Homo sapiens: one gene and its partners. The gene in region 1 interacts genetically with each later gene. Each region holds a gene or a part of one and is shown on either strand. Other genes may lie near its edges.

The links.
Region 2: changes in ARID1A (region 1) and TUSC2 together harm fitness more than expected from each alone (negative genetic interaction), as found in Homo sapiens cells (one large-scale study listed by BioGRID).
Region 3: changes in ARID1A (region 1) and ALG8 together harm fitness more than expected from each alone (negative genetic interaction), as found in Homo sapiens cells (one large-scale study listed by BioGRID).
Region 4: changes in ARID1A (region 1) and BRMS1 together harm fitness more than expected from each alone (negative genetic interaction), as found in Homo sapiens cells (one large-scale study listed by BioGRID).

What each region holds. Positions count from the first base shown.
Region 1 is NC_000001.11:26,764,987-26,769,759, reverse strand, and holds part of ARID1A (AT-rich interactive domain-containing protein 1A), read right to left. Parts: intron 3,540-4,773; coding exon 3,394-3,539; intron 3,304-3,393; coding exon 3,194-3,303; intron 1,971-3,193; coding exon 1,761-1,970; intron 1-1,760. UniProt on the Homo sapiens protein: Involved in transcriptional activation and repression of select genes by chromatin remodeling (alteration of DNA-nucleosome topology).
Region 2 is NC_000003.12:50,325,345-50,330,302, forward strand, and holds the start of TUSC2 (tumor suppressor candidate 2), read right to left. Parts: upstream 2,880-4,958; 5' UTR 2,756-2,879; coding exon 2,610-2,755; intron 1,134-2,609; coding exon 1,013-1,133; intron 843-1,012; coding exon 777-842; 3' UTR 1-776. UniProt on the Homo sapiens protein: May function as a tumor suppressor, inhibiting colony formation, causing G1 arrest and ultimately inducing apoptosis in homozygous 3p21.3 120-kb region-deficient cells.
Region 3 is NC_000011.10:78,133,048-78,137,263, forward strand, and holds part of ALG8 (dolichyl pyrophosphate Glc1Man9GlcNAc2 alpha-1,3-glucosyltransferase), read right to left. Parts: intron 2,301-4,216; exon of another isoform or gene 2,183-2,300; intron 1-2,182.
Region 4 is NC_000011.10:66,342,226-66,346,995, forward strand, and holds the start of BRMS1 (breast cancer metastasis-suppressor 1), read right to left. Parts: upstream 2,880-4,770; 5' UTR 2,747-2,879; intron 17-2,746; 5' UTR 10-16; coding exon 1-9. Other genes in the region: B4GAT1 (beta-1,4-glucuronyltransferase 1), read right to left, coding at 3,824-4,015, 4,265-4,770. UniProt on the Homo sapiens protein: Transcriptional repressor. Down-regulates transcription activation by NF-kappa-B by promoting the deacetylation of RELA at 'Lys-310'. Promotes HDAC1 binding to promoter regions.

The DNA.
Region 1 (4,773 bases):
CTACCATATGGTAAGCCTGTTCCCCCAAGGCCTGGGAACAAGGGTTTTCAAGTCCCTATACACAAAGGAAGTTCAATAGGTTGTAATGTCTGCTGATATGATACCTATGATACTAGAAAGAAGAGTTTAAAGAGGCACAGAGGGGGACAACCTAGAGGGGCAGAGGTGACTAGGAATACTTCTTAGAGTGGGTAACACCTGAGCTAAGTCTTCATGGTTGGAGATGGCCTTGGTGGGAAATATCTAGACTCTCTCCCATCTCCGTGGCATCTAGGCCAGTCTACTGGATTGGCCACTCTTCCACCTAAACCCTACTAATCCTTTAGATAAGCTCAAGATTCAGCTTTGCTTTCTTGGAGCCTTCACAAACTAACTTATAAATAGCACTCTTTTGCCCCTGAATTATCACTGCCTTTATAAAAGTTCAGTTACAATCACGGCATTTTAAAGGTTTGCATCCTTTTCCAATCTGGAAGACAGGCTCAGGCATTAGAATTCTCTCTGTACCTCATCCTAGGTTCAGTGAACCCTGAAGCCCACCCAATCAGAAGTGAGCGAAACCTAACCCAATGCTCCCTTTCCCTATAGACAGGGAAGGCTTGACTATGAGATCTGAGTATCAGGGAGAATGGCAGGAATATGCATGGAGTCACCTCAAAAGCCTTCCGTGGCTTTGCTTCTCATGCCAGTTATGTGGCAGTATGCACGTGTCTTATTTTGTTTTGTTTTCCTTTGTGGGGGAGGGGAATAAAGCCTGAAGGGAGAAGGAATTCATAACTGACTGTTGGCTGGCTTCATTCCAACCACTTTCTTTTCTGCTGGTGACAGCTGTTTTCCTCTTCTGATTTAGAAGGTTTGGAATAAATCCCTCCCTGCCACACCTCCCCGAGCTCAGCCACAAACTGATCCAACAGCAGGCTTCTGGTCTGGTGACTACAGAACATACACAGGAGGGAAGTCTGCAAGGCACAGTCTGCTGTCTGTCTGTGCTGCCTCACCTGTTTGCTTCCTGGGCTGAGTCTACAAAATTGTAAGGTATCAGAGTAGGCACAAGCTCTGGGTGGTGTCCAATTCAGGTTTTCATTTAAGTTTCCCATACAGAATAACTAAACACATAATTTCCTACTACTTCTTCCTTTATTATAAACTATTTCTACTAAGCAGTTCCTGAAATCCTATCTCTACTGGGAAGCTTCCAGGAATGGGAAGATCTACTTCTACTCTGGCTGCCTCTGTACCATCTTGCAGGCCGATTTATGTGGCAGAAACCTTGCTGAAAGCCAAAGTTATTTCTAACTTTTGACAGTCTAGTGGGTTATATACTGTTACATACTGTTTGTATTTTACAAATAATGAAATTAAGGTTCAGAGTGGTTACACACCTTAAGGTCATATATGTTATAAGTGGCCAAGAAGGGATTCAAAACCAGGTCCATCTCTCCAAATCCTGTCTTTGCTACTATGCCAAATTGCCTCCCATGGAATCAGAATGCCCACAGACTTTCCCTAGCTTTACACCTCAGTGGGACCATAGATACACGGTAAACTTACTGCTAATACCTCATACTACCAGGGAGGTCTCTGCTTCCTGCCTTATCTTCTGGGAAACCTGTGCTCCCCGGTCTATCAATATTAGACTCAGAAAGCGGGAGAGGGGATGATGTCCCTGTGGGATGCATGGTACCACATGAAGCCAGTGAGTACCTAGAAAGGGGTTTGTGGAAACCACAGGGGCAGTCAAGTGTCAGGCGCCCACTCACCTGAGTCAATCCACCAATCTCCTTCACAGACACATAGAGGCGATAGAGGTCCAGAGGTTTCCTACCCACAGCAGGCAGATTTGTCATGCCCATGGCCTTCTCCTCAGTGAAGGCCAGATAACGGTCCACCCACATCTTCCTCTCAGGCTCACCACCCAGCTCATACAACTTGGTGATCTTCTCATTGGTTGTAGTAGAAGAACTGGATTTCTGGAAGGTTCAGGTCAAAATTCATAGGAATGGGTCAGATTCAAAGCCTGTGCTAAGGGTCTCAGAAGTCTCTTGACTGGAGCAGTGTTAAAGCTTCTTACTCTGGGGTGGTTACTAACACCTGTCCTACCTTCATAAGGTTGAAGGGCCAAAAGAGAACCAAATTTTTTTTTCCTATAAAGGAAGGAAGCTAACACTAAATATATGTTATGTACTGGGTGCTGTGCTAGATGCCTTTATATATTAGGTATTATAAAATTATCCCCATTTGTAAAGATAAGGAAGCAGGCACCAGGAGGCAAAGCCTAAGATCTCACAGCTTTTAAGTGGCAGGCTGAGTATCAAATCCTTGTCCACCTGACATCAAAGCCACTACTGCTCCCACACTACTACCCAGGAGCCTGAACATACTTAGGTACTATGTTTTAGAGAAATCGAAAAACTCACAACATGATCTTGAGGCAATGGGATGGACTAAAATGAAAAGAAACTCTTTGCCTCTTCTAAACAAAGGAAAGGTTTCCCACCTGGTTGAAGGGCTTTGGATATTATCCTGTACAAGACAGGAACGTGGTCAAAAGGGCTGGGAGCCAGAGGTGAAGACTCACAGGAATTAACAGCTATGATTTTTATTTTCCCTATGTATACAGATAGGGAAAGTGAGGTATGGCCAAGGACAGAAATATTACAAATGACCCAAATGCTGAGTAGGACCCTTTACTACCGCACAGCCTAACAGTACACCCAGGACCAACCTAAGGGAAGCCAAGGACTCAAGCCTCATCTGCCTTATCTCCTTCTTTACAGAACACAGGGTACCATTCCTGCTGCTATGAGTAAGGTTCAGGAAGAGAAGAGCAACTAGTTGCCCATGGCACACCCCATCTATCAATGCTTGAGTATAGGAGGCACGGTTTCACAGAGGGCACCAGCCAAACAGTACAGAGAGTTTGATGCTGCAGTGTCTGGCATTTCCCCCATAACAAACAGCTGTGAGAATATTATGTTATTTACCAGGATCCCTTAGACCAACCCAGACCCAACTCACTGAGCTATTATTCTGGGACCTTTCATGATAAGAGGAGGCAACAGCAGCTTTTTCAGAGACTATCTAGTCCGGTGTCATAAAAGGCTGGGATCTTGTCACTCTCTTTTCTTTTTCCTTCCTATCACTGAAAAAGATAGGACACAAAGTTGAAAGGAGTCAAGACAAAAATCACTACCTTGGATTTGGATTCTGTCTTGGGTGTCCCATCTGCCTTGTTGTTCATTTTGGTGGCTGGAGTTAACTTTACATCCCCAAGGCCCATCATCTCTGGGCTGGCTGCCATCCCTGTAAAAGAGAAAAAAATTCTCAAGTCCAGTAAGTTTAGCTGTGATGTGACTCTTGAAGAAATCCCTAGTGAGAATGACTAGCACTTACCTGCAGAATTGTTGGCCATGGTTCCACCCATGGAATATGGGGGTCCCTGAGGGTTGATCATGCCAGCCATACTATTAATCCCTTGTCCATAAGGAGGTCCAGTTCCCATCATGCCCCCTTGATTCATATTGGGGTAGCCTGGCGGCCTAAGGAAGAAGATGGAAAGTGAGAGAGACAAAGGTTAGACTCTGAGCTTTTAGATTTGAACTGGAGCCAAATAGTGCTGTGTGATCATCTAGTAAGGATTAAAAGGAAAACATTTATGGGTCCCCAAAACTAGAACTATGCAACATCCAGATATTATTTTTCTTTAATTTATTTTCTTGAGACAGGGTATTGCTCTGGCACCCTGGCTGGAATGCAGTGGTGTGATCATAGCTTACTGCAGCCTTAATCTCCTGAGCTCAAACAATCTGCCTTCCTCAGCCTCCTGAGTGCCTAAGACTATGAGGCATGCACCACCATGTCCAGCTAACACCCAGATTTTCTTTTTTTTTTTTTTGAGACAGAGTTTCACTCTTGTTGCCCAGGCTGGAGTGCAATGGTGAAATCTCGGCTCACTGCAATCTCAGCCTCCCAGGTTCAAGCAATTCTCCTTTCTCAGCCTCCCAAATAGCTGGGATTACAGGCATGTACCACCACACCCGGCTAATGTTGTATTTTTAGTAGAGATGGGCTTTCTCCATGTTGGTCAGGCTGGTCTCGAACTCCTGACTTCAGGTGATCCACCTGCCTCGGCTTCCCAAAATGCTGGAATTACAGGCATGAGCCACCGAGCCCGGCCAACACCCAGATTTTCTTATCTTCTACCTCCCACGAAAGATACTAAGAGAGTTCAAGCTCTAGATAGCAAACAATAGTTCAATTTTTTTTTTTTTTGAGATGGAGTCTCGCTCTGTTGCCCAGGCTGGAGAGCAGTGGCGCGATCTCAGCTCACTGCAAGCTCCGCCTCCCGGGTTCACGCCATTCTCCTGCCTCAGCCTCCCAAGTAGCTGGGACTACAGGCACCTGCCACCACGCCCGGCTAATTTTTTGTACTTTATTAGTAGAGACAGGGTTTCACCGTATTAGCCAGGATGGTCTCGATGTCCTGACCTCGTTATCCGCCTGCCTCAGCCTCCCAAAATGCTGGGATTACAGGGGTGAGCCACCATGCCCGGCCAATTTTTTTTTGAGATGGAGTTTCACTCATCTCCCAGGCTGGAGTGCAATGGCATGATCTCGGCTCACTGCAACCTCCGCCTCCCAGGTTCAAGCCATTCTGCCTCAGCCTCGTGAGTAGCTGGGATTACAGGCGCCCACCACCATGCCTGGCTATTTTTTTGTATTTTTAGTAGAGATGGGGTTTTGCCATGCTGGGCAGGCTGGTCTTGAACTTCT
Region 2 (4,958 bases), on another chromosome or scaffold:
TGGGTTGGAGTAACTCCCCATAGGCACAAGCATCCGCAGCCTGTCCTGACCCCAGCCTGCACTCTCTCAACTCCTCAACTGGGGGTTCGGGGTTGGGGGGCAACAGTTAGTTGCAGTAGGGGGATCAGCCCAGCCCTGGGTAGAGGGAGAAGCCCCCACCCAGTCCCCACTCCTATCAATAGCCAGCAAACTGTCCATCCATCTGAAGGCGGGAACAAATGGCAGGTAGGTCGGAAGAATCAGGCTGGCACTGCCCCCAGCCTCTGTCCAACACAGGAGGAATCGAGGTAGCAAACGGCTGAAATGCTCTGACTAGGGGTTAAAAGGGAAGTGAAGGAAAGGAAGTTCCTACTTGTATACAGTGCCCACAGCCTAGGGGCTGGAAGAAAGCATACCTTGCTTGTAAAGTGCTGTAGCCTCTAGCAGGGCTAGGCCCCAGGCAAACTTGGAAGAAAGCAGACCAGGCAAGGAACCAGGTAACGGGCATTCCTGACTGGTATATGCCCTGCTGTGCTGCTTGCAGGGGTGGCTTGGGAGAGTGGGGTGCTAACTCTGCCATTAGCCTTCACCACCCACCAACCACCTCTTGTCCACACACAAACCAACACCCAACCAATACTGTGGGACCGACCCGCTCACAGCTGAAGGTTATGGGCCAACAGAGTTTATTCAGGGTTGTGGCCCCAGCCTGGGCTCCTCAATGGAAGCCACACCTTGATTGAGCCTGGGAGTTTCTTGCCGGGGCAGGGGGTGCTTCTGTCTGCCACCTCCCAGGGTCACACCTCATAGAGGATCACAGGGAAATCCACGTGGATGCGGGGGTGATCCAGCTTCACGATGCCCTGCCATGGAAACAGAGGCTAGTAAGGGTCAGCTCAGGGCCTCTACTTCAGGAAGCTTCCTTGTTCCTCCCAGATCCCCCCGCAAAAGCCCCCACCATGACAACAGATCCCATCTGGGTCCACCTCCACACGCTTAGTGTAGGCTCTGTGACCGCTGCCCAGCCCCTCACCTGAGGAATCAGATTCTTATGCACTCGCCTCAGCTTGGCCCGCTTCTGCCCGTTCTTGGTGACGATTGTCTCCTCATAGAACTCGTGAGCCAGATCCCCATCCTCATCATAGAACATAGAGCTGTGTAGAGGGAGAAGGAAACAGGCTGGGCTGGAGCCCCACACCTGGGCATGGCAAATGTCACAGGTCACGGGGAAGTCTGTGGTCTTCCCAACCCCAAGTGGGAAGAAAAGAGGATAATATGCCTGGAGAATCCTTTTTTTAAAAAAAATTTTTCGAGACAGAATCTCACTCTGTTGCCCAGGCTGGAGGTGCAGTGGCGCGATCTCAGCTTGCTGCAACCTCTGCCTCCTGGGTTCAAGCAATTCTCCTGCCTCAGCCTCCCAAGTAGCTGGGACTACAGACATGCACCACCACACCCTGCTAATTTTTTGTATTTTAGTAGAGACGGGGTTTTGCCATGTTGCTCTGGCTGGTCTCGAACTCCTGAACTCAGGCAATCCACTCGTCTTCATCTCCCAAAGTGTTAGGATTACAGGCGTGAGCCACGGTGCCTGGCCTGCCTGGAGAATCCTTTGCCTGGGGTTTGGGGTCTACTAGAAGAAAGTGGGAAGTGAGGTGATGGGTGGGCAGTGCTACTATGTCAGACCCCCAAGAAGAGAGCCCACACCAGAGCACACCATCCAGGCAGCCACCAAGGCCAGTTCTCATCCTTGATTTGTTCAGCAAGGGCAGCCATTCTAATATCAGGACTTTGCCTTCACCCAGGACTTCTAGAGTGGGCAGGGTGGTGGCCTGGGCATGTTGGTCTCACTCCAGAAGATGCTGCTGGCCCAGTGTCAAAGACTGAAATAGCAGAAGCCTAAGCTAGGAAGAAGCACAAAGGAATGAAGGCTGCGTCTCCCCTGACCCCACACCCCAGGTGGCTGGTGAATTGCCACTGTTGGGTCTTCCTGGTGTCTACAGCCAAATCTCTAGCACAGGGAGCGCCCATCTCCAGGAGCCCACTAGAGCCAAGCCAATCTGGTACTCTTGTGCGGGCCTCTGGGAGACTGGGCTGGGGGTTGGGTGGGTAGGTCAGCGCTCTGGATCTGGAGAACATAACTGGGTGAGGGTCTTTTTTCCTCAGCCTCACCCCCAATACTGAGGCCTATCCCTGCTTTCCCAGCCACTACGCTCAAAGGTTCAGCCCCACTACTGTCAGGAAAAGCAGCCTAAACAGAGGGTTATTATCCCCTTGGAATAACTGGGGGGGAAAGGGAGGCTAGGACCCTTCAGTATGCAGGCTGAGCCGGAAGGGATGAAAGGAAGAGATCTTATGGAGGTCTTATGGAGGCCCTAGCTTAGCTTTACCGTGCGGAAGGTCCGACCAGTGACAAGCCTCAGGCCCACTCTTCCCTAGGGAGACTTTCAGAGTGGCCAGGCCGCCAGGAGACCACTGCCCGGCTTTCTCCACCCCCAGCTCCAATGAGGCTCAAAATATGGGGGTCGTCCTGGCTTGGCTGTAGTGGGGTACAGCGGTGGAAGTTCCCCCGTGGCGCGGGACGCCTGGCCGCCCGCCTGTTCCCCCCGCCAGGGTGGAACCCATGCCCTTACCCGCGGCGCGTGAATACGAAGGGGGGCACAGCTCGGCCCCGAGGCCGCACCAAAGCTTGCTCAGCTCCTGCTGCCTCTGAGCCGCCGCCTCCGGCCGCCGAGGCGAAGGGCCACAGGCCCCGAGCTTTGGACCCGCTGGCGCCCATGTCAGGGCCGCCGGCGCATGGCGGGCCCCGTGGCCGCTCTGCTCACACCGCAGTCCGCACTACCATAACCTGCCCCAGCCGCTGATCGCAGGTGCCGCCGCCGCCGCCTTCCGCAGGCTCGGCTGTCTCCACGGAAACCTCACTTCCGCTTCCGCACGCTGCCACCTCTGATTGGCTGTTGCTCAAGTCGTGGGGGCGGGACCAATGGGCGCCCTTAGATGCTGGGCATCCCAGCATGCGTTGCGAGATCCCAGGTCCCAGCAAGCGCGATCTGACCAGCTGGGACAGCTCCCACCGAGGAAAGTGGTGGCCGTGAGTCCTCCCGGTCTTTTGGGTGTATTTGGCGGCTCTGACGTCCCCCAACACCTGAGTTCAGGCCTAGCAGGACTTCGCAAGCACCAATCCTCAAACCTGCACTTCAGGGCCTAAGGCCAGACCGCCGGGTGCCCATCTGGCTTCTATTTTCACAGCTGTATTTTTGCGATTGCCACGCTTATGTGAACTAACCAAGTTGAAAGAAAATTAAGGAACTGGCCAGATTCACATAGTTACATTCAGTTCTGAAGAACTTCGAATTCAGTGTTTTCAAACCCAGCAGAGTCCATGCTTAATGAAAGCAAGAATTGTTAACAGCTATACCCTCGGTATCACGAGCAGTGTCTGGTCCACGGTGGCAGCTCTGTATTTGGTGAAGGAGTTATGCCACACCTTCTCCCAGAGCGTGGTGTGTGTGTGTTGAAGGGATGGTTTTGTTTTTTTTTTTTTTTGAGATGGAGTTTCACTCTTGTCGCCCAGGATAATGTGCAGTGGCACGATCTCGGCTCACTGCAGCCTCTGCCTCCAGGGTTCAAGCGATTCTCCTGCCTCAGCCTCCCGAGTACTTGGGATTACAGGCATCTGCCACCATGCCGGCTAATTTTTTTGTATTTCTAGTAGAGACGGGGTTTCACCATGTTGGTCAGGCAGTCTTGAACTCCGGACCTCAGGTGATCCACCCGCCTTGGCCTCCCAAAGTGCTGGGATTACAGGCCTGAGCCACTGCGCCCGGCCGTTTTTTTTTTTTTTGAGTTGGAGTCTTGCTCTATCGGAGTGCAGTGGTGTGATCTCCACTCACTGCAACCTCTGCCTGCCGGGTTCAAGCGATTCTCCTGCCTCAGCCTTCTGAGTAGCTGGGACTACAAGCGCCCACCACCACGCCCAGCTAAATTTTTTTTGTATTTTTGGTAGAGATGGGGTTTCGCCATGCTGGCCAGGCTGGCCTCGAACTCCTGGCCTCAAGTGATCTGCCCACCTAGCCCAACCAAAGTGTTGGGATTACAGGTGTGAGCCACTATGCCCAGCCAGTTTCCCTAAGTTCTAACTGCAGTCCATTTTTGTCTCCACCACAACCTGAGCCCCAGGGAGCTGAGTGATGACCAAGTATGTATGCATACTACATCTTCACAAATTGGTCCATGGTGACTTTGCAAGACACCTGGGAGCCTGTCCATCACCCTTGGCAACTTCTGGCACCATGAGGGGCAACTGCAGCTCTGCGCCTATAATAATAAAGAGTCCAGGCTGGGCAGGGTGGCTCACACCTGTAATCCCAACACTTTGGGAGGCCAAGTTGGGAGGATCCTGGGCAACACAGAGAGACTCATGTCTCTACAAAAACTTTATATGTATAAAAGATTCCAACAGCAGGAGGATCTTGAAATCTTTATTGAGCCAATTCTCTCAGGCCCCAGGCCCTGATGATGACTGTCACCCCAACCCCTTTCCCCACAGGAGGCATTCAGCTGAGGCCACCACACATTACATACATTCACGCACTTCATAAAAAACACCTGAGGGAGAGACCCTGGCTTTGATTAGCAAATAAGGTATGAACCTGGGCCAGTGCCCACATTCACACAGACCCTGGCCCAGGGACATCCTCCTCATATGAAGCATTAAGGCACATGCTGTACTGTGAGCCAGCACTCCCTGACCTCAGGGTGTGTGAGGAGTTGGCACTGTAGAGAGAAACCAAGACTCTTCCTCAATGCCTGCCTTATTCTGAGCACCCACCCTTAGCTCTGATAAGGATATCCTGAGACCACATTCAAGATCCAAAACCTTTCCTCATAGATGAGGGCCGTCACCCCTGCAAACATGACCCTGTTCTGTTTGCAGGGTCTCCAAGATTTTCACTTCTGAGACAAAAATTGAGGAGACTTCT
Region 3 (4,216 bases), on another chromosome or scaffold:
GATGGTCTCGATCTCCTGACCTCGTGATCCGCCCGCCTCGGCCTCCCAAAGTGCTGGGATTACAGGCGTGAGCCACCACACCCAGCCTCTTCTTCCTAATACTTAATCCAAATTGTAGTTATGTAACTATATATTTGCATTGATTTGTTTCTTGTACTGTTATACTTACTGAACTACACACTTCACAGGGCTAGGGATCATATCTATTTTTTCCTCCCTTCTAGCCTAGCAACAGTACCTGGTACATAATAAAGCAATTAGTAAATGTTTTGTTGAATATATCTGCATTTATCCTGTAACTTCCCTCTCATATCCCAGGGGTTTCTGGTTTGAGAAACAGAGCATTAACTACAATTAAAAACATTCGTTTTTAAATATATGAAGTGTTTCATAAATTTGCATGCTATCCTTGTGCGTGGACCATGCTAAGCTTCCTGTATCATTCGATTTTAGTGCAGGCATACCTTAGAGATATTGTGGGTTTAGACCACCATAATGAAGTGAATATCGCAATAAAGTGAGTCACATGAATTTTTTGATTTCCCAGAGCATGTAAAAGTTATGTTTACACTGGCCGGCCGCGGTGGCTCACGCCTGTAATCCCAGCACTTTGGAGGCCGAGGCGGGCGGATCACGAGGTCAGGAGATCGAGACCACCCTGGCTAACATGGTGAAACCCCATCTCTACTAAAAATACAAAAAAAATTAGCCGGGCTTGGTGAGGGGCGCCTGTAGGGTCAGCTACTCGGTAGGCTGAGGCAGAAGAATGGTGTGAACCCGGAAGGTGAGCTTGCAGTGAGCCGAGATAGCGCCACTGCCCTCCAGCCTGGGCGACAGAGCGAGACTCCGTCTCAAAAAAAAAAAAAAGTTATGTTTACACTATACTATAAAACGTGCAATACTACTATGTCTAAAAAGACAGCGTACACCTTCATTTTAAAATACTTTATCGCTAAAACAAAGCTAATGATCATCTGCACCTTCGGCAAGTCCTAATCTTTTTGCTGGTGGAGGATTTTGCTTCAATGTTGATGGCTGTTGATTGATCAGGTTTATGGGTGCTGAAGATTGGGGTGACTTGTGGCAAACTGGTTTTTTTTTTTTTTTGAGATGGAGTCTCACTCTTGTCACCCAGGCTGGAGTGCAATGGTGTGATCTTGGCTCACTACAACCTTCGCCTCCTGGGTTCAAGTGATTCTCCTGCCTCAGCCTCCTAAGTGGCTGGGATCACAGGTGCCCACCACCACACTTGGCTAATTTTTGTATATTTAGTAGAGACGGGGTTTCCCCATGTTGGCCAGGCGGGTCTTGAACTCCTGACCTCAGGTGACCCGCCCGCCTCAGCCTCCCAAAACGCTGGGATTACAGGCATGAGCCACTGCGCCTGGCAAGACTGTGGCAATTGCTTAAAATAAAACAACAATGAAGCTTGCCACATTGATGGGCTCTTCCTTTCACAAAAGATTCCTCTAGTATGCAATGCTGTTTGATAGGATTTTACCCACAGTAAAACTTTCAAAACTAGAGTCAATCCTTCTTCTCAAACCCTGCCACTGATTATTAACTAAGTTTATATAATATTCTAAATCCTTTGTTGTCATTTCAACAATATTCACAGCATCTTCATTAGCAGAGTGCATCTCAAAAGAAACCACTTTCTCTGCTCATCCATGAGAAGTAACTCCTCATCCACTCAAGTTGTATCATGAGATATCATGCAGCAATTCAATCACATGCTCAGGCTCCACTTCTAGTTCTCTTGCTATTCCCATGACATCTGCAGTTACTTTTTCCAATGAAGTCTTGAACCCCTCAAAGTTATCCATTGGAGTTGGAATCTAATTCTTCCAAACTCTTGTTAATGTTGATATCTTGACCTCCTCCCATGAATCATGAATGTTCTTAATAGCATCTAGAATGGTTTCAATTTACTTTGCCCAGATCCATCAGAAGAATCACTATCTATGGCAGATATAGCCTTATGAAATGTATTTCTTAAATAACAAGACTTAAAAGTCAAAACTGATTGGGCATGGTGGCTCACGCCTATAATCCTAGCACTTTGGGAGGCCAAGGCAGGCAGATTGCTTGAGCACAGGAGTTCAAAAACAGCCTGGGCAACACAGCAAAAACCCATCTCTACTAAAAATACAAAAAATTAGCAGGGTATGGTAGCACACACCTTAAGTCCCAGCTACTTGGCAGGTTGAGGTAGGAGGATTGCTTGAGCCTGAAAGGTGGAGGTTGCAGTGAGATGAGATCATGCTACTGCACTACAGCCTGAGAGGCAGAGTGAGACCCTGTTTCAAAAAAAAAAAAAAATCAACTACTCAACTGGCTGCAGAATAGATGTTACATCAGCAGGCATGAAAACAACATTAAGGTTGGGCACAGGGGCTCATGTCTGTAATCCCAGAACTTTGGGAGGCAAAGGTAGGAGGATTGCTTGAGCCTAGGAATTCCAGGCCGGCCTGAGCAACACAGTGACCCCATCTCTCCAAAAATACATTTAAAAAAAAAGCCGGGCATGGTGCTCACGCCTGTAATCCCAACACTTTGGGAGGCCAAAGAGAGCAGATCACTTGAGGCCAGGAGTTCAAGACCAGCCTGGCCAATGTGGCAAAACCCCATCTCTACTAAAAATATAAAAATTAGCAGGGCATGATGGTGTGCACCTGTAATCCCAGCTACTTGGGTGGCTGAAGCAGGAGAATCACTCGAACCCGGGAAGCTGAGGTTGCAGTGAGCTGAGATTGTGCCACTACACTCCAGCATGGGAGACAGAGTGAAACTCCGTCTCAAACATAAATAAATAAGAAAAAAAAAAAAGAAAAATAATGGGTGGGTGCAGTGGCTCATGTCTGTAATCCTAGCACTTTGGGAGGCCAAGACAGGTGGATCGCTTGAGGTCAGGAATTTGAGACGAGCCTGGGCAACATGGTGAAACCCCATCTCTGCAAAAAATACAAAAAGTTAGCTGGGTGTAGTGGTGTGCACCTGTAGTTCAAGCTACTTGGGGAGCTGAGATGGGAGGATTGTTTGAGCCCAGGAAGTAGAGGCAGCAGTGAGCTGAGATCATACCAGTGCACTCCAGCCTGACAAAGTGAAACACTGTCTCAAAAAAGAAAAGAAAAAGGAAAAATATTGACCAGTGAGGTGGCTCAGGCCTGTAATCCCAGCACTTTGGAAGGGCTCACTTGAGCCCAGGAGTTCGAGATCAGCCTGGGCAACACAGTGACACCTCGTCTCTACCAAAAAGAAAAAAAAAAAACAAACCAAAACAAAACACACACATATAGATAGATAGACAGACAGATAATAGAGAGAGAAAGGAAAAAAAATTAGCTGGGCATGGTGGCATCTGTCTTTGTCCCAGCTATTCGGGAGGCTGAGGGAGGAAGGCTGCTCAAGCGCAGGAGATTAAGGCTGCAGTGAGCCATGATGGTGCCGCTGTACTTCACCCTGGGAGATAGAGCGAGACCCTGCCTCTAGAAAAAAAAAATGTTTCTGAGCAGTAGGTCTCAACAGTGGGCTTATTCAGTAAACCATGCTGTAAATAGATGTGCTGTCATCCAGGGCTTTGTTGTTCCATTTATAGATCACAGGCAGAGTAGATTTAGCATAAGTCTTAAGGGCCATTGGATTTTTAGAATAGTAAGTGAGAAATGGCTCAACTAGATGTCATAGATGGCATCTTCCAATGTAAGTCTGTTTCTTCTACCTTGAAAACCTATTGTTTAGTGTAGCCACCTTCATCAGTGAGCTTAGCTAGATCTTCTAGAAAACTTACTGCAGCTTCTACATCAGCACTTGCTGCTTCACCTTGTACTTTATTATGGAGATGGCTTCTTTTCTTCCTTTTTTTTTTTTTGAGACAGAGTTTCACTCTTGTTGCCCAGGCTGGAGTGCAATAGCGCGATCTCAGCTCACTGCAACCTCCACCTCCCGGGTTCAAGTGATTCTCCTGCCTCAGCCTCCCAAGTACCTGGGATCACAGGCATGCTCCACCACGCCCAGCTAATTTTGTATTTTTAGTAGAGACGAGATTTCTCCATGTTGGTCCTCAGGTGATCCGCCCGTCTTGGCCTACCGAAGTGCTGGGATCACAGGCATGAGCCACCGCGTCCGGCCGATGGCTTCTTTTCTTAAAAGAACCTCTGCTAGCTTCCAAATTTTCTTCTGCAACTTCCTCACCTCTCTTAGGCTTCAAAGAATT
Region 4 (4,770 bases), on another chromosome or scaffold:
GACAGGCATCTGGACTCTGGGAGAAGGAATGGAGCTATCACTTATGGCTGCCCACAGCTCAGAGGGGGAAAGAGGCAGCAGGATGCTGAACACAACTCGATCCCAGATGGGGAAAGCCAGGGAAGTAACTGGCCTGGCCACACCTTGAGCACAAACTGGGTGACAAGGGTGCAAATGGCCATCTGCACCTCTCACAGAAGGCTGGGAGCTGTGGAACTGCTCCTGCTCTTGGATGTCACTGGTGATCCTAATCCTAGCAATACTGGCCAAGGCTGTGATCCACAGAAAGGAAAGGCCCAGGGGGCACTCTCCACTGCCTTTGCAACTGGACCTAAATTTCTTTTCTTCTTATTATTTTTTGAGACAGAGTCTCGCTCTGTTGACAAGCTGGAGTGCAGTGGCACGATCTCAGCTCACTGCAACCTCCTCCTCCTGGGTTCAAGCGATTCTCCTGCCTCAGCCTCCTGAGTAGTGAGATTACAGGCGCCCGCACCACACCCAAACTGGACCTAAATTTCTAACTGGGGCTTTCAAGGTCTTTCCCAGACTGGACTTGACCTACCGGTCCAGCTCCTTCATCCCAACATATAATGGCTAGTGCTTGCACTTCCACTATCCACCCTCTGCCTCAGCTGTTCCTTCTGCCTATAATGTCCTCGGCTTCTCTTCCAGATAATGTTACAATCTCCTTGTCTTTCATTGTGCTCTGGGTCAAATCCCATCTCCTTCTGCTTCCTCTTGGACCGCAGGTCATCAGTGCTCCCCTCTCTTTTCTGTGTCTTCAGCTTCTAACTCTTAGCAACCTCCTTCCCATGAAACTTTGGATGTGCTTGGGTACTTCCTAGCATTAACAAAACACAGAAACACAAAACCTCACCCATTCCACCTAACTGCTCCATTTGCCACTTCACAGTTACACTTTTCAAGGTCTCATGAACACTGGCTGTTCCTACTTTCACCTCCCACTTGTTCGATGTCCTCAATCTCAGCTGAAACTGATCCCGTAGCATTAACCAATGACTTCCTTGTGGCTAATGCCAATATTTTTCAGTGCTTATTTTAATTGTCTGCTCGGCAACATCCAACACTGGTAAGCATTCCTTCTTTTACTGACTCATCTAACATGTATTGAACATCTAACATATGCTAGGTACCGTCAGACGCTATGGTATGCAGGCGCCCAAGTGTGAATGTCTTTGACCTCACGGAGTTTACAAGTTCCTGGGAGACAGGGGCAAAGGAGCACACTATAACCATGATAGGAGGAGAGTTAAGACCAGGGGCATAAGGGAGGGGTATATAACCAGGACCTGGAGCCCGATGCAGCAGGGAGGCTTCCAGACAAAGATGGACCAGCTGGGTGAGCTGCACTTATTGAGGGAACATTCCAGGTAGAGTCAGTAGCAAAGACCCAGAAATAAGAGAAGGAAAGCAGCTGGGGGAACATGGGTCTAAGTCTCAGTGAGAAATCTGAGCTGCAGGGATTTGGTCGTCAGCATACAGCAAGTTCTTCATGCCACAGGAGAAGGTGCAACCAGCAAGGCACAATGTGTGCGATCAGAAGACGCCCAGGGTCACCAAAGGGGCAGATGAGGAGACCCCTACAAAGGAGGAGGCAAAACCCGAAGTGGTGGAGAAAGAGTTTTAGAAGAAAGCCAAGTACTGCCAAGGAGTAATTGCACTGATAGTGCCAAGTACTGCCAAGAGATCACCTAAGAAGAAGAAAACAGTCCTCTCAGCAGATAATCTCTCAACCTCCTGCAGGCTTCTATTTTATTGTGTTCTTCCAACTTCTCTGGACACTGCTTTGTAGTCCTTTAGAACAGTGCAGACACCACTCCCTCCAGGAAGCTTTGTTTATATCTATTTGCCTGTTCTCATATCTGTCCCCGCAATCAGTCTATGAGCCTCACTAGGGCAGGGGCTGCACATGTAACTTATTTACCTAGCACAGTGCTGGTTCACTTGATGACTGGAGGATTTGCAAATACAAATTTAACAAAAAAATTTTTTGTGAGACAGACATTAGTTTTTACTTTTCGGTAGTCCCAGGTCCCTGTAATGGTAGCAAGCTTTCCTTGACACCAGTTCAAGTTGTGTATAGTAAGCCTGGCCTAGGTGAGTGTTTAGTCATATTCCTCAACAATTTCACTAATGACCTGCACCTGACTTGAAAGGCTCGGTTCTCTAAACCAGCTTCATCTTCCCGTTATCAAGCCTCAGTTCCCAACATTTGCAATGCCTCTTCACTGTTAGTATATTCACTTTGTAAGATGCAGCTTAAGTCTATCTCTTCCAGAAGCCTTTCTTTCCTCCCCCTGGTTCTGATTATGAGTGAGTTAAGTCACAACCTTCCCACCTTACCCCGGGTGCAAAAAGCGGATAACCATTCCTGCTCTGAGTGTTGAGGAGCTCACAGGTGGTAAGGGATGGAAAAGCACACTGTAAAGCGCTGTACACAGGCAATTTATCTTTTCAGAATGGCAGCTCCTCCGGGGCAGGCCCCTAGGGAAGGCAGACCCTCCCCACTCTCGCAGAGGTCAATCCAGCTTCTCCGCAGCGCCCAGGGGGCCTCCCGCTCCCTTCTAGATGCGCCGGAGCGGGCCGGAATATCACTGGCTCGCCCGCAGCCCAGCACGCGTCAGGCCGGTTAAATCTCTGCTTCGGCCTCGGAGGAGGAGGTTGTGCCGGCCCTGCTCGACTAACCGGAGAGGGCGAACCAAAAGCCATGCATGACGATACGCACCGCGGGGACTGGAGCCTCTGGCCTCACGACGGAGATTCCCTGAGAGCTGCCCGTGGTTGCCGGTACCGGCTGCTGCCGCCGGACTCCCGTAGGCGCTGCGCGGCTCCCTTTTCTTCGGGAGGCAGAGCCTATCGGTGCTTCCGTGTGCGTCATCAGGAGGCGACCGTCGGGGATGCTCACAGTTGGACAGTTTGGTCCCGAGGCATGCTGGGATACCGCGGGCCGGTCTCCATAGTAACTGGCCGACATTCGCGCAGGCCTTCGGCCTGCAGGGAAGGCCCTGATGGTTCAGTGCTTTGCAGACGGTGCCCTTCGTCCGCGGCCATCTCCCCACGGCGTGCAAGGGGAGAAGCCGGCCCCGATCCCCCCACCCCCAGCTCAGGAGAGTAACGGAGCCAGCTGTGGGTGTGAACACGCATTTATTTACACATTGTCATCGGTAGGCACATACCCAGCCCAGCCCGTTGAAGGGACAGATCTCAGGCTGTCACCCATGGAACCTGCAGACCCTTCCCTCCTCCAGAACCCTTGAAGGCGAAGCCCTGAGAGAACCAGGAATTTTAGGCTTCTGTTCAAGAGCTAAGAACTAAATTTTATGCCTTCATCTGATTTCTTTCCAAAAAGTCCATTTCATTAAGTATTCAGACTTCTTAGCTCCATCCCATTCATACTTTTTGCTCTCCTACTACCCACCCAAGATTGTTAATAATAACAATAATAATAACAACAATAATACTGCGATAATATTAATACTTCACATTTGTACGAAGCTTACAGAATGTTTTCACATATAGCATCTCATCTGAGCCTCCCAACAGTTCCGTGAGGTAGGTATTCTCACCTCCCTTTTTACAGACAGGGTAACCGAGGCTCAGAGAGGTAACGGGATTTACTCAAGGCCACACAGCTAGTTAGTGGTAAAGCTAGGAATCGATCCCAGCACCCCATATCCAAGTCCAGTGTTTCAACACCACAGCTACCTCTGTAAAGTGGAGCGACATTTCTTACCCCAGTCAGGCCTAAATGGTGGCCTGAGGAGCCAAGAGGCTGACTTCTCAGATTAGGGGAGGGAAGGGCTCAGCAGCGTCGGGGAGAGTTGGGGTACTTGGCCTTCAACTCCTGTTTGAACTGGCGATATAGGATCTTATTGTGCTGATTTTCAGCCTCCTTTTGGGGATGGAACTTCAACGCTTCTTTGAAGCCCTTATGAACCAAGAAACCTTCGTTCAGGACCTCAAAATCAAACCCCGCCACATGCAGCTCGCAGGCCTGCAGGAGGAAAGACAGGTTAGCAAAGTTTGATGACATTGACAGGCCTGAGACTGACTTCCCTAAAGCCACAGTCCAGCGTCCTCACCCCTCTGGAAGTATCCTGGATCTTCCACACCATCCACCCACCTCCTGAACTATGATCCCTCCTGCTTCATTGCCTCCTTTCCATCCAGGGCCACTCCTCATAACTCCCTGATCCCACCACCCCTCCTGCCCCATTACCCCTGCCCTCTCCCTTATGAGCACCTGGCTGATTCGGTTGAAGCCGTACTGCCGAAAGCGCTCGTCGAAGGTGGGCACCTTGCCTCCTGCCACGTAGAATGGCTCCCAGGGGTCCTGCCAAGGTACCACGTAGGCGGGCCGCAGCAAGCTCTCTTCCGGCAGGTTGACCCAGCGGGAATAGTTGGTGGGTGCCTGGCAGGGGGTGCACAACCCATAATAGAAGGGCCGCACCTCGCCAACCTGGTAGAGCTGCACCAGCTCGTTTTTGTTCATGGGCATGCGGCGGGCTCTTCGGATTTCGAAGGCAGGCACCACCAGCGCGGTGCCTCCCCACTGGTTGCTCTGATCCAGCATTTCCCGCAGGCCTCTCCACAGCCCCTCGCTGGGCACCATGTCCACATCGATCACCAGGGCATAGTTGGCCCCCTCACGAGCCAGATTCCTCAGCAGGTTATTGGGGTAGGAGACATTGGTGCCCAGCGCATAATTAATCCCGGGCTGGGCCACCCTGGCTAGCTTGTCAAAGACCT